Homo sapiens: one gene and its partners. The protein of the gene in region 2 purifies or fractionates together with the protein of the main gene of each other region. This does not show direct contact. Each region holds a gene or a part of one and is shown on either strand. Other genes may lie near its edges. The genes, in order: DIDO1, CAPN13 and SAFB.

The links.
Region 1: the proteins of CAPN13 (region 2) and DIDO1 purify together in Homo sapiens (affinity purification with mass spectrometry; one large-scale study listed by BioGRID and IntAct). This does not show direct contact.
Region 3: the proteins of CAPN13 (region 2) and SAFB purify together in Homo sapiens (affinity purification with mass spectrometry; one large-scale study listed by BioGRID and IntAct). This does not show direct contact.

The regions. Positions count from the first base shown.
Region 1 is NC_000020.11:62,891,924-62,895,572, reverse strand, and holds part of DIDO1 (death-inducer obliterator 1), read left to right. Parts: intron 1-407; coding exon 408-524; intron 525-658; coding exon 659-763; intron 764-1,024; coding exon 1,025-1,160; intron 1,161-1,378; coding exon 1,379-1,907; intron 1,908-2,610; coding exon 2,611-2,764; intron 2,765-3,496; coding exon 3,497-3,586; intron 3,587-3,649. UniProt on the Homo sapiens protein: Putative transcription factor, weakly pro-apoptotic when overexpressed. Tumor suppressor. Required for early embryonic stem cell development.
Region 2 is NC_000002.12:30,744,867-30,748,515, forward strand, and holds part of CAPN13 (calpain-13), read right to left. Parts: intron 3,555-3,649; coding exon of another isoform or gene 3,489-3,554; exon of another isoform or gene 1,536-3,488; intron 869-1,535; coding exon 857-868; intron 1-856.
Region 3 is NC_000019.10:5,660,984-5,664,632, reverse strand, and holds part of SAFB (scaffold attachment factor B1), read right to left. Parts: intron 3,116-3,649; coding exon 2,825-3,115; intron 612-2,824; coding exon 474-611; intron 237-473; coding exon 194-236; intron 1-193. UniProt on the Homo sapiens protein: Binds to scaffold/matrix attachment region (S/MAR) DNA and forms a molecular assembly point to allow the formation of a 'transcriptosomal' complex (consisting of SR proteins and RNA polymerase II) coupling transcription and RNA processing.

The DNA of each region.
Region 1 (3,649 bases), on a different chromosome or scaffold from region 2:
CCTAAACAGAAATGATTTCTTCCTTCCTTTGTTCCTGACGCTACCTTTTTGACTTGTGTCCACCTTGTGTACATAATTGTTTTTCCTGAGGTGTTGTGTGTTGTTTTTTTTTTAGCAGAGCCAGTGCAGCACAGGCCGTGAAACCCACTGTTGAACCTTATTACCTGTGCTCTCTGGGCTCCCATTTGCTCACAGCAGGGATATCCTGGGGCGCACTCTCATAAGGCCGTTTGGGGAGTTAGGTCACACCCTGCAGGGAGGGCTCTGCCCAGTGCCACACGCAAGTGGGCCCTGAGGGCCTTTGTCCTGTGCCCGCTAAACTTCTGGGCAGCTGTGTTTTCCAGAAGCTCTCTGTATTGACAGATATAGGAATATTATTTGAGTAAATGAAAAATACTTGTTTATAGGGACTCTTCCATCGTGTTCTGCGTGAGGAAATCTCTTTGGCGAAACTTGTGAGACTGAAGCCAGAAGAACTTGTATCTAAAGAGCTTTCCACGTGGAAAGAGAGGCCAGCGAGATCTGTGAGTGCTGAGGGGTACCTGCGGAGGCACCCAGGACTCGAGCTTAATAGAAATAAATTCATAGACGGCTGCATAAGCGATGCTTTCCTCCTAGAAAACAAGGCCTAAGCTCTGTTTCGTCTTTTTCATTTCAGGTGATGGAGTCCAGAACTAAACTGCACAATGAAAGCAAGAAGACGGCCCCCAGGCAGGAGGCCATCCCCGATCTGGAGGACTCTCCGCCAGTGTCGGATTCAGAGGTAAGCATTTGGGAGATTTTGTGTTCACCGAGAATAGACTAATCCATCCCAAATGTTTTGAGGTTATCTTAAATTATTGGGCAGGACCTGAGCTTACAGCAGGTGTATGTCATTGTGGCATTCCTCAGTCCTTGTATTAGATGGTCCTTTTTTCTCCCCCGTGGGTCTCAATCCCATGAGACTGCTTTTCTTGTGTGTGGTTAATTTGGAGCTGAGTTTGGAGAAGAAACGACCTCACTTTTTTTTCTTTTTCTTTTTTAGGAACAGCAAGAGTCAGCACGTGCTGTCCCTGAGAAGAGCACAGCGCCGCTTCTCGACGTCTTCAGCAGCATGTTGAAAGACACCACCAGTCAGCACCGCGCACACCTCTTCGATCTCAACTGTAAAATTTGCACAGGTGAGCACAGTGCAGGGGATGGAGCCTTGGAGCTGAGACTAAACTTGATTTTGTTAAAAATCACTGAACCTCCTAAAAGCAACCGCACGTAAGCTTAAACACGCAGAAGGGCCAGAATGATTTCCTGCCCTGCCTTTAGAGTATTGCTTTCGGCTTTGTGTGAGAAACACCAGTGTGCCGGCTGGGTTTCTCACAGAGCCTTTCCTCGCCTTCTTCAGGCCAGGTTCCCTCCGCAGAAGATGAGCCAGCTCCGAAAAAACAAAAATTGTCAGCTTCTGTTAAGAAAGAAGACTTAAAATCAAAGCATGACAGCTCTGCACCTGACCCAGCTCCGGATTCAGCTGATGAGGTGATGCCGGAGGCTGTGCCTGAAGTTGCCTCTGAGCCAGGCCTAGAAAGTGCTTCTCATCCAAATGTGGACAGAACGTATTTCCCTGGGCCTCCAGGAGATGGCCATCCCGAGCCCTCCCCGCTGGAAGACCTGTCCCCCTGCCCAGCCTCCTGTGGGAGCGGGGTGGTCACCACCGTCACAGTGTCCGGCCGGGACCCCAGGACCGCTCCAAGCAGTTCATGCACAGCCGTGGCCTCCGCAGCATCCCGCCCAGACAGCACCCACATGGTGGAAGCCAGACAGGATGTGCCGAAGCCTGTCTTGACTTCTGTGATGGTGCCCAAGTCCATACTAGCTAAGCCATCCTCATCTCCTGACCCAAGATACCTGTCAGTTCCTCCGTCACCAAATATCAGGTGCGTACTTCAGGTGTGGTCTGAACAAGCCAAACTTTTTTTTTAGATTAACGAAAGGAAAGATAACTGGTGATTAAATAGTTGAACTTGGAAATGTAACCTGAAATACAGCTTCACTCTTTCATCTTTTAAAAAGCCCCAGTTGTAGGGTGCCTTATTGTCCTTTTGGAAGTAGAGATCTTAGAAATTGACATTTAAATTTGTGCTCATCCAGTTTTGTTGCCTATTCACTTTATTTTTCTTTAACCAAAATGTCTGTATCATTTTAATTAAAGTAAGTAATTGGCAAAAGTAAGCTACCAAAAACGTAAAACTTGCAAGCGTTCACTTTTGCTTTTACATATAAAGTCTTTGTACTCTTGAAGCCGGGCACAGTGGCTCACACCTGTCATCCCAGCATGTGCTTGAGCCCAGGAGTTTGAAACCAGCCTGAGCAACATGGCAAAACTCCATCTCTACAAAAAAGACAAAAATTAGCTAGGTGTGGTAATGCACGCGTGTAGTCCCAGCTACTTGAAAGGCTGAGGTGGGAGGATCACCTGAGCCTGGGAGGCGGAGACTGCAGCCAGCTGTGTTGCACCACCGCACTCCAGCCTGCATGACAGAATGAGATCCTGTCTCAAAAAAAAAAAAGGCTTTCTACTTTTGAAATTCTCATTGCACAGAGAGACATTGACTTTTTTTTTATGGTTTTGTTTTACAGCACTTCAGAATCACGTTCCCCTCCAGAGGGAGACACGACCCTCTTTTTGTCTCGACTCAGCACCATTTGGAAAGGATTTATTAACATGCAGAGTGTGGCAAAATTTGTCACTAAGGCGTATCCTGTCTCTGGGTGTTTTGATTACCTCAGTGAGGTTAGAACCAAGAAAATGTGTGTGCGTGTGTGTGTCTTTCATAGGAGTTTCTAAACTAGAGTCAAACACATGACTTTCTCCCTTAATTCATGAGGTAGGAGAGAAACAGAAATGCCTGACACTCTTGCAACCGTCTGTCTGGATGCAGAAACGGCTCTAAATGCAAAGTGGCGATGGCCGTGATGAGTCCGCAGGTTCAGCAGTTTGGACAGGGTCGGAAATGTGAGCCTGCAGTCTGGCCTCTCAGTGATCGGTTTCGCTGGGGCACTGACCACATGGCTGTGCGCACAGCCACCGGCACAGCCAGGTGTTCGGAGCCTGCTTTACACACACCTGGCCACTTGCGGGGTGGCGCATATGACCCCGTGGCAGGCCTTTTAGTTTTCAGAATTAACCAGAAGACAGCACTAGCATTTATGACTTTAATGCAAGGAGTCACCCTGGCTCATAGTGAATCGTTACTCTCTGTGTATGTACGTAAAGACAGCATAGAAGTGTTGGGCAGTCATTTCTAAACATAATCTTGTCTGGCAGAAGGTTGGCATCACTCCCCCTTTGGATTTGGCCACTTGTCATCCTGGACTTAATGCATTTAATACAAGTGTGACTCTTTTCCTTGGAATAGCTGTAGTCTTCTTGAATCTTGGGTAGTGTGTGCCTTCACATGGCTGCATTCGTCTTTCTGTGACTACTACAGTTCAAAGTGATTTACGCAAAGTACTTTCTGTTTAGGATTTGCCTGACACAATTCACATTGGTGGGAGGATCGCACCGAAGACAGTTTGGGATTATGTTGGCAAACTCAAGTCTTCTGTGTCTAAGGTACCTGCTTATAGTATAAATTCTGCAACCATGGAAAATTGTGTTGATTTAAACACATCTTTT
Region 2 (3,649 bases):
TCCAGCTCTGGGACCTGAGACGCTGATGGCTCCTTGCACCTGAGTGCTTCTCTCAATGCCCATCCCAACCCTCCACTTCATAGCTGGGATGTCAGGGACCAGAGTCAGATCCTGACCCCCGCTCTGTGGCTGGGCCACCACTGTCACAGGCAGGCTCCCCTGGAAGGCCTGGAGGTGCTGTAATCACTCTTTGTTGTCTGTGGCCACATCTTGCTCCTCTCTTTCATCTGTGGTCCCCAGGCAGATGCACCTCCCTCTTGGTGGCTCAGCACTCTCAGCCATGGGCAGAGAGGTGGGTCTGAGTGCCTGTGAGGATAGGTATTCCAAACTCCACCTGTCTTTCTCCATCCTTCCTCATATGGGCAAGTCACCTTTCACCAATCCTGAGCCAGATGATCTGTTTAGGAGGGTGGCAGTTTCTTGCAAGACGGGCTCAAGGATGTACCTTGAAGCTGCATTTGGAGAGCATGCATCCTGCTTATGGAGGATTTGGGGACTGACTACTTTAGGAGGCTAAAGATCTTTCCAAGGTACCCCTTAGTGCTGCTCTCATCTTAAATAAAAAGGAACCATCTCCATCAATCTTCTCTATCAGAGGCCACGGGCCTGAGGATGGTTTCACTTGAATGTTAGCAAGAGAACAGCTCAAAGGGTCGAAGCTTCAGACCAGGACACCTAACTATTCTCCTGCTTTGTGAACCTGTTTGGGGATTCTAGGCCTGTGTCTGATGTAAGACTTAGCGAGACTGAATTTGCAGCCACTGAACACGTGGAGGCCATGGGCGTTGGAAGTGGCCTAACACTCCACCAGCAGACAGCAGCAGAGGCGCAGGGCAAGGACGACGCTGAGCCATACCTGTGAGCCAGCCTGTTGGAAACAGGGAGAAAGGCAGATTTAGGAACTCAGACGTAAACAAAAAGGCAAGCAGAACCGAACAGCTTGGCTCATTGGTTTCATCCCTGCATTCCTTCTCCTTTTCTTCCTCTCTTTTAAAGAATTTATTTTATATCTGTTATGCCATAAAGCATTTTTTTTTTTTTTTTTTTTTTTTGAGATGGAGTCTCGCTCTGTCACCCAGGCTGGAGTGCAATGGTGCAATCTCGGCTTACTGCAACCTCCGCCTCCTGGGTTCAAGCAATTCTCCTGCCCAAGCCTTCTGAGTAACTGGGATTAGAGATGTGTGCCACCATGCCTGGCTAATTTTTGTTTTTAGTAGAGACGGGGTTTCACCGTGTTGGTCAGGCTGGTCTTGAACTCCCGACCTCAGGATCTGCCTGCCTTGGCCTTCCAAAATCCTGGGGTTATAGGCGTGAACCACTGTGCCTGGCCACCACAAAGGATGTTTTAAACACTGACATATCACTGTCTAACAAGATGAAGTAAAGACAAAAGAAATTTTTCTTATTAGAAACAAGATACACCATCACTTAGAGTCTTCAAACACTATTGCACTCTAACTTTCATGACTCAACAAAGCATTCATGGACCAATCTGCAGACGAGTTTTAACAGACACATAAAGCTGTAAGCAGACATGACTGTTCTAAATTTATTAGGTATGAATTTTACAAACGTTACTTATATCTGTGATAACATTAGAGCTGGAGAATATTGCACCTTCTCCAAGTTGCATGGTGAGAACCACCAATAGCGTGGTAGAACTTACGGCCCTTTCCAAGGCCATGGCTCTTGCAGCCTGAGGATGTCAGCCCACACATCTCCCCATGCTTGTGGATAGATTTGGTGATCTGCTGGGTGTCAAGATTTCCTCTGATAGTTTTATGGAATGGATCAATGAGGATAACCTCAAAAAATTTATAAGTGGAACACGTTCCTCTTCCTTGTGTGGCCTGCCTGTTCCTTGGCACACCTAGAGGTGAACTGGGATGACTGGTCACTCATGCTCTGTGTGAGGTTGTGAAAAATGAAACCCACTCAATTGCAGAGAACAGCAAGAGGAAGGAAACTGAGGCAGAAAAGGAGGTGTCTGAGAGGAGGAGGTATTCTTTGGTCAGCCCTGAAAGGTGTGGTTACTCTTCACAGCAATGATGATCGCACTGAAAGGAAGGGGGAGATTTTGACAGATAGCACAGAACCTGGCGCAAATGTAAGCTCCCTAACATCGGGAGCTTCCCTGAGAAGTCAACTTCTTTTATTCTATCAGGCCACTGTAAATAGATGGGAATTCGTTCTTGCACTCCCACCCCTGATGCTTGTAGGAATGTCTGTGTGCCTATGAATGGGGAGATACCCATGTTCCAGTCTTTTCACGTAGTAGAAGGAATACCTGAGAATGCAGTTCCATTGTAAGCCTCTCTACGGTTTGCAAAGCACTTTTATGTAATGTGTTGGATATTCACAATAATCCTGCAAGCCGATGCTGGGCTCCCTATTTTATGGGTGTAGAAACTGAGGCTCAGCAGTTTAAGTAGCAGAGCTGGGAATCGGGGAAGCTGTGCTGCTTGCTTTGTAGTCAAGCCCTGTCACCACCAGGTGATGTCTTCCTTAGTTGGCTTGATTATTTCCCATTGTTGACACTGGGCCCCACCCATGTGTACAGACCTCTTAGCCGACTTCTCTGGAGGCCAAGGGTGAGCTGGGAGGAAGGTGGAAAGTCCAGGCCTTGGGGAGGAACTTTGAGGGAGGTGAGGATGAAATGGCTCATCCACCCTCATCCTTTTCACTGTCCTGTCTTCTCCCTGCCTATTCATATCCCATCAAGGTCTGGTTGGACATAAAGCAGAGCAGTGCTCCCACAGCAACTGGGGAGTCACAGACCCATGCCAGGGCTGGAGCATCATCATATCAGCAGGTCAGCACTGGAGCCCTGGAACTCCATTTGAGCCCTGGAGCCTTCTGAGAGCCTGGCTGCTGGCAGGTACATTGTTGTTTCTCAGCTGAACTGTGAAAGCAACCAGTGTCATTTGAGTTGTCCAGGTCTGAACTGTTCTTTGACATTTAACTCAATCAGGATCTTGCAAGATCTGCTGGGATCTCCAGGAAGCCTGAGGAGCTCTTGGGTCTGAGAGTTCCTTCAGCAAATTGGTGAATGGTGAGAAGTAACACATCTCTGGCAGAAAAGTAGGAAAGTGGGCTTGATGTCATTTTAAAAATGGGGTGGTTACAATCTTGGTAGGGTTCCTGAACTGTGAAGACTTTGGGTGAATCAACACAAGGCCCATGGTCACCCATGTGAACAGAGCCTCAGAAGTTGCGTGTGTGCCGGGGCAGCTCTGATCCTTCTGTGGGCTTCTGTCTTAGCTCAGAAGAAGGAAGAGTTGGCTGAGATGTTTCTAGTAGGCCTCTTTGGTGCTTGACCTGGTCAGTCCTGGCTGGGCAGACCAGGGGCCTCAGTTCCTTCTCAGCCTTTCACAAATCTCTCCTTCTGCCTTTAGCCTTTTCTTCCCAGAGGTGAGAGCTGGAAAATCTGAGGGTCCTCTTAGAAGGCACCAGAGTCAGCAGGAATTCTCGTCTGAAAGCCCTGGAAACTATCTCAGGCTGGGGTGGGCTGAAAGATGCTTCTTGGAAGGACAGCTCACAACGTCGATGGGATGCTAGAAAATGCAGTGCAGAGGTGGGCAGGGGCCAGACAAGATGGCTACACAGCAAATAATCCTCAGCTGTTCCCACCTGTTTTGGTTATTTCCTT
Region 3 (3,649 bases), on a different chromosome or scaffold from region 2:
GGACTGACAGCCAAGACTAACCCCAAATAATCCCAAATTTCCATTCCACAAACCTAGACTTTTCTAGTGCTTTACTTTTCTCTTTCCTCATTTTGCCTCTTGCTCAAAGAAAGGGCAGGAAGAAGGCACGCTGAAGGGAAAAGAACCCATTCTATGGGAAATTCTGTGGCTACCACTGTAGCTTCAGACTTACCTGTCCTTCTCGTTCTCCCATCATTGACCTTGAACCTTCTCTCCTGAAAAGGCAATTTAAATCAAACCGTAAGGGGAAGAAGAGGCTTGTTCACAAAGAGAGGACCATCAGGCCCCCAATGAAAAGCATAATTTCCCTAACTGAAGGCAGGAGACCTGCGGGTCTGACTCAGCATACATCTGATGAACGGAGTGGGTTCAGAGAGCCCAGGAGTCCTTGTTCTCAGTCAGAATGAGCCAGGAAAAAGAAAACCCGCACGCCCAGCAGGGGCCCAACTGACCTGTCCACCGAGTGGTCGGGGTAGCGGCCGCGGTCCCTGTGGTCAAAGTCGTGGAAGCGGTCCTGGCGGTTAAAGTCAGAATGGTAGCGCTCATCCAGGGCGGCCCGCTTGGCTTCCGGCCAATAGGCATCATCTCGCCTGTGAGGGGACATGAGACAGAGATAGAGGGATCCCCCACCCCAAATGTATCTATCACCTTTGTGGGAGCTGGCCCCTAGCACTTCACAGAACCAGGATGACTTTCACCAAGAGTGTTCTCTCCTATAGGAGGCAAGGTCTGATTTGACCCCAGTGACTGCACAGTTGTTTTGTTTTGTCCCATGCACCCACCTCCCCTGATGAAAAGCGGCCTCGGTTTTCCAAAGAGGGAGCCATTAGTTAAGCAGTCAGTCCTATGGGCTGCCTGCAGATGGCTTCTGGAGCCCTACACAGCCACCTCCGCTCAGGAAGACCACGTGAGCCTCCACCCCGAGGGGCTCTGTCAAGTGCACCTGCCATCTCTCTCGCCCCAAAGCTGACCTCCTGCCCTGCCAGCAGCCCTGGCCATGTACTGCTGCAATACACAGATGACCATAATGAACTGTCATCAGAAGGATTTCGTACCAAAGCATAATAGATCCTAGAACAGTTTACAAGGCCCTTTATAGAAGTTGCATTGTATATATGACCTGGGCTCCTCTTCAACCCATGCAATAGAAAGAAACAACAAACAGCAATTTTTGCCAGGTTGCAGTGCACGTGTAAAGCCTGACACAATCACTGCTGGAATTACACACCTGACTCCTCACAGCAGCCATGCTCAGCATTTTGTGTTCATACCTCCTCTTCAGTATGTTTGAGAAATTAAAATTAATCTTACTGCCGGGCGTAGTGGCTCATGCCTGTAATCCCAGCACTTTGGGAGGCCAAGGTGGGTGGATCACCTGAGGTCAGGAGTTTGACAGCCTGGCCAACATGGTGAAACCCGGTATCTACTAAAAATGCAAAAAATTAGCCGGGTGTGGTAGCACATGCCTATAATCCTAGCTACTTGGGAGAGTGAAGCAGGAGAATTGCTTGAACCCAGGAGGCGGAAGCTGCAGTGAGCTGAGATCACGCCATTGCACTCCAGCCTGGGCAACGAAAGCAAAACTCCGTCTCAAAAAAAAATTTTTTTTTAATTCTTTATTTCTAGAATAAGCAAAAACAAATTACAATGGATTTAAAAAGCCAGGACAAGGCCGGGGGTGGTGGCTTACGCCTGTAATCCCAGCACTTTGGGAGTCTGAGGTGGGTGGATCACCTGAGGTCAGGAGTTTGAGATCAGCCTGACCAACATGGCAAAACCCCATCTCTACTAAAAAAAACAAAAATTAGCCGGGTGTGGTGGTGGGTGCCTGTAATCTCGAATACTAGGGAGGCTGAGGCAGGAGAATCGCTTGAACCCAGGAGGTGGAGGTTGCAGTGAGCAGCGATCGCGCCATTGCACTCCAGCCTGGGCAACAGAGCGAGACTCTATCTCAAAAAAAAAAAAAAAGGAAAGGGCCTTAAAGGAGGTGCAGTAGGGCACGTGTGGCGCTCTCTACGTGCCTGAGCTTCCCTCCTCAGGAGGTCTGTGCCACCCTTGAACCTGGTTAGTTAACCAGCACTACTTTATCCAGCCTCCTGTCTCTAATTTTTTTTTTTTGAGACCGAGTCTCACTCTATTGCCCAGGCTGGAGTGCAGTGGCACGATCTTGGCTCACTGCAACCTCTGCCTCCTGGGTACACGCGATTTTCCTGCCTCAACCTCCCCAGTAGCTGGGATTACAGGCGCCTGTCACCACGACCAATTTTTTGTATTTTAGTAGAGACGGGGTTCTGCCATGTTGGCCAGGCTGGTCTTCAACTCCTGAGCTAAGGCAATCCGCCCACCCTGGCCTCCCAAAATGTTAGGATTACAGGCGTGAACTAGCGCACCCGGCCTATGCTTCCTTTGAATGAAAGATCTCAAGCTGGCCGGTCGCGGTGGCTCACAGCTGTAATCCCAGCATTTTGGGAGGCCGAGGCAGGTGGATCACGAGGTCAGGAGATAGAGACCATCCTGGCTAACACAGTGAAACCCCGTCTCTACTGAAAATACAAAAAAATTAGCCGGGAGAGGTGGCAAACGCCTGTAGTCCCAGCTACTCGGGAGGCTGAGGCAGGAGAATGGTGTGAACCCGGGAGGCAGAGCTTGCAGTGAGCCAAGATCGGGTCACTGCACTCCAGCCTCCGCGACAAAGCAAGACTCCGTCTCAAAAAAAAAAAAAAAAATCTCAAGCTAACTGGACTGTGAGGTCCCTAACACGATTCTGAACGCCACGTGCTAAGGGCAGCATGGATCTGCTTACCGGTCCAGGTCGTAGGGCCGCCGCACCGCGGGCCGCCGCTCCTGCTCATAGCGCAGTTCCTGCTGGCGCCTCAGCTCCTCGCGCTCACGGTGGATGCGCTCCTGCTCGCGCCTGCGCTCGTGCTCCACGTGCATGCGTTCGCGCTCCAGCCGTTCCCGCTCCATGCGCTCCCGCTCCAGCCGCTGGCGCTGGAAGGCCAGCCTCTCTCGGGCAATCTCCAGCCGCTCACGCTCCTCGCGCTCCCACTGCGCCTGCATGCGTTGTTCGCGTTCACTGCGTTCACGCACCCTGCTGCACAACAGTAGAGCTGCAGAAGGGGACCTAGACACCCCCAGCCAGGTCCCAGGGCTGACTTTAAGTAAGACGCTGGGTCGCACAGACTCCAGGGCTGTGCGTCCACTACGTGGTCTGCAGAACCGTACACTCCAGCGGGAAGAAGGCTTCTCGGGCCCACAGGAGCAGCCCAGGAAGATCTCAGGAGTGAGGCCCAGGCTGTGTGTGTGTGATCAGAACTGGGCCTCCTTTCTCCAACATTTCCTGGAGCTTGACAAGTGATTTCAGGAAACAGCCAGTCAAAAATAAGCAACAGGCCGGGCGCGGTGGCTCACATCTGTAATGCCAGCACTTTGGGAGGCTGAGGTGGGTGGATCATGAGGTCAAGAGATCGAGACCAGCCTGGCCAACATGGTGAAACTCTTGTCTCTACTAAAAATACAAAAATTAGCTGGGCATGGTGGCACGCACGCACCTGTAGTCCCAGCTACTCCGGAGGCTGAGGCAGGAAAATCACTGGAGCCCGTGAGGCAGAGGTTGCAGTGAGCCACT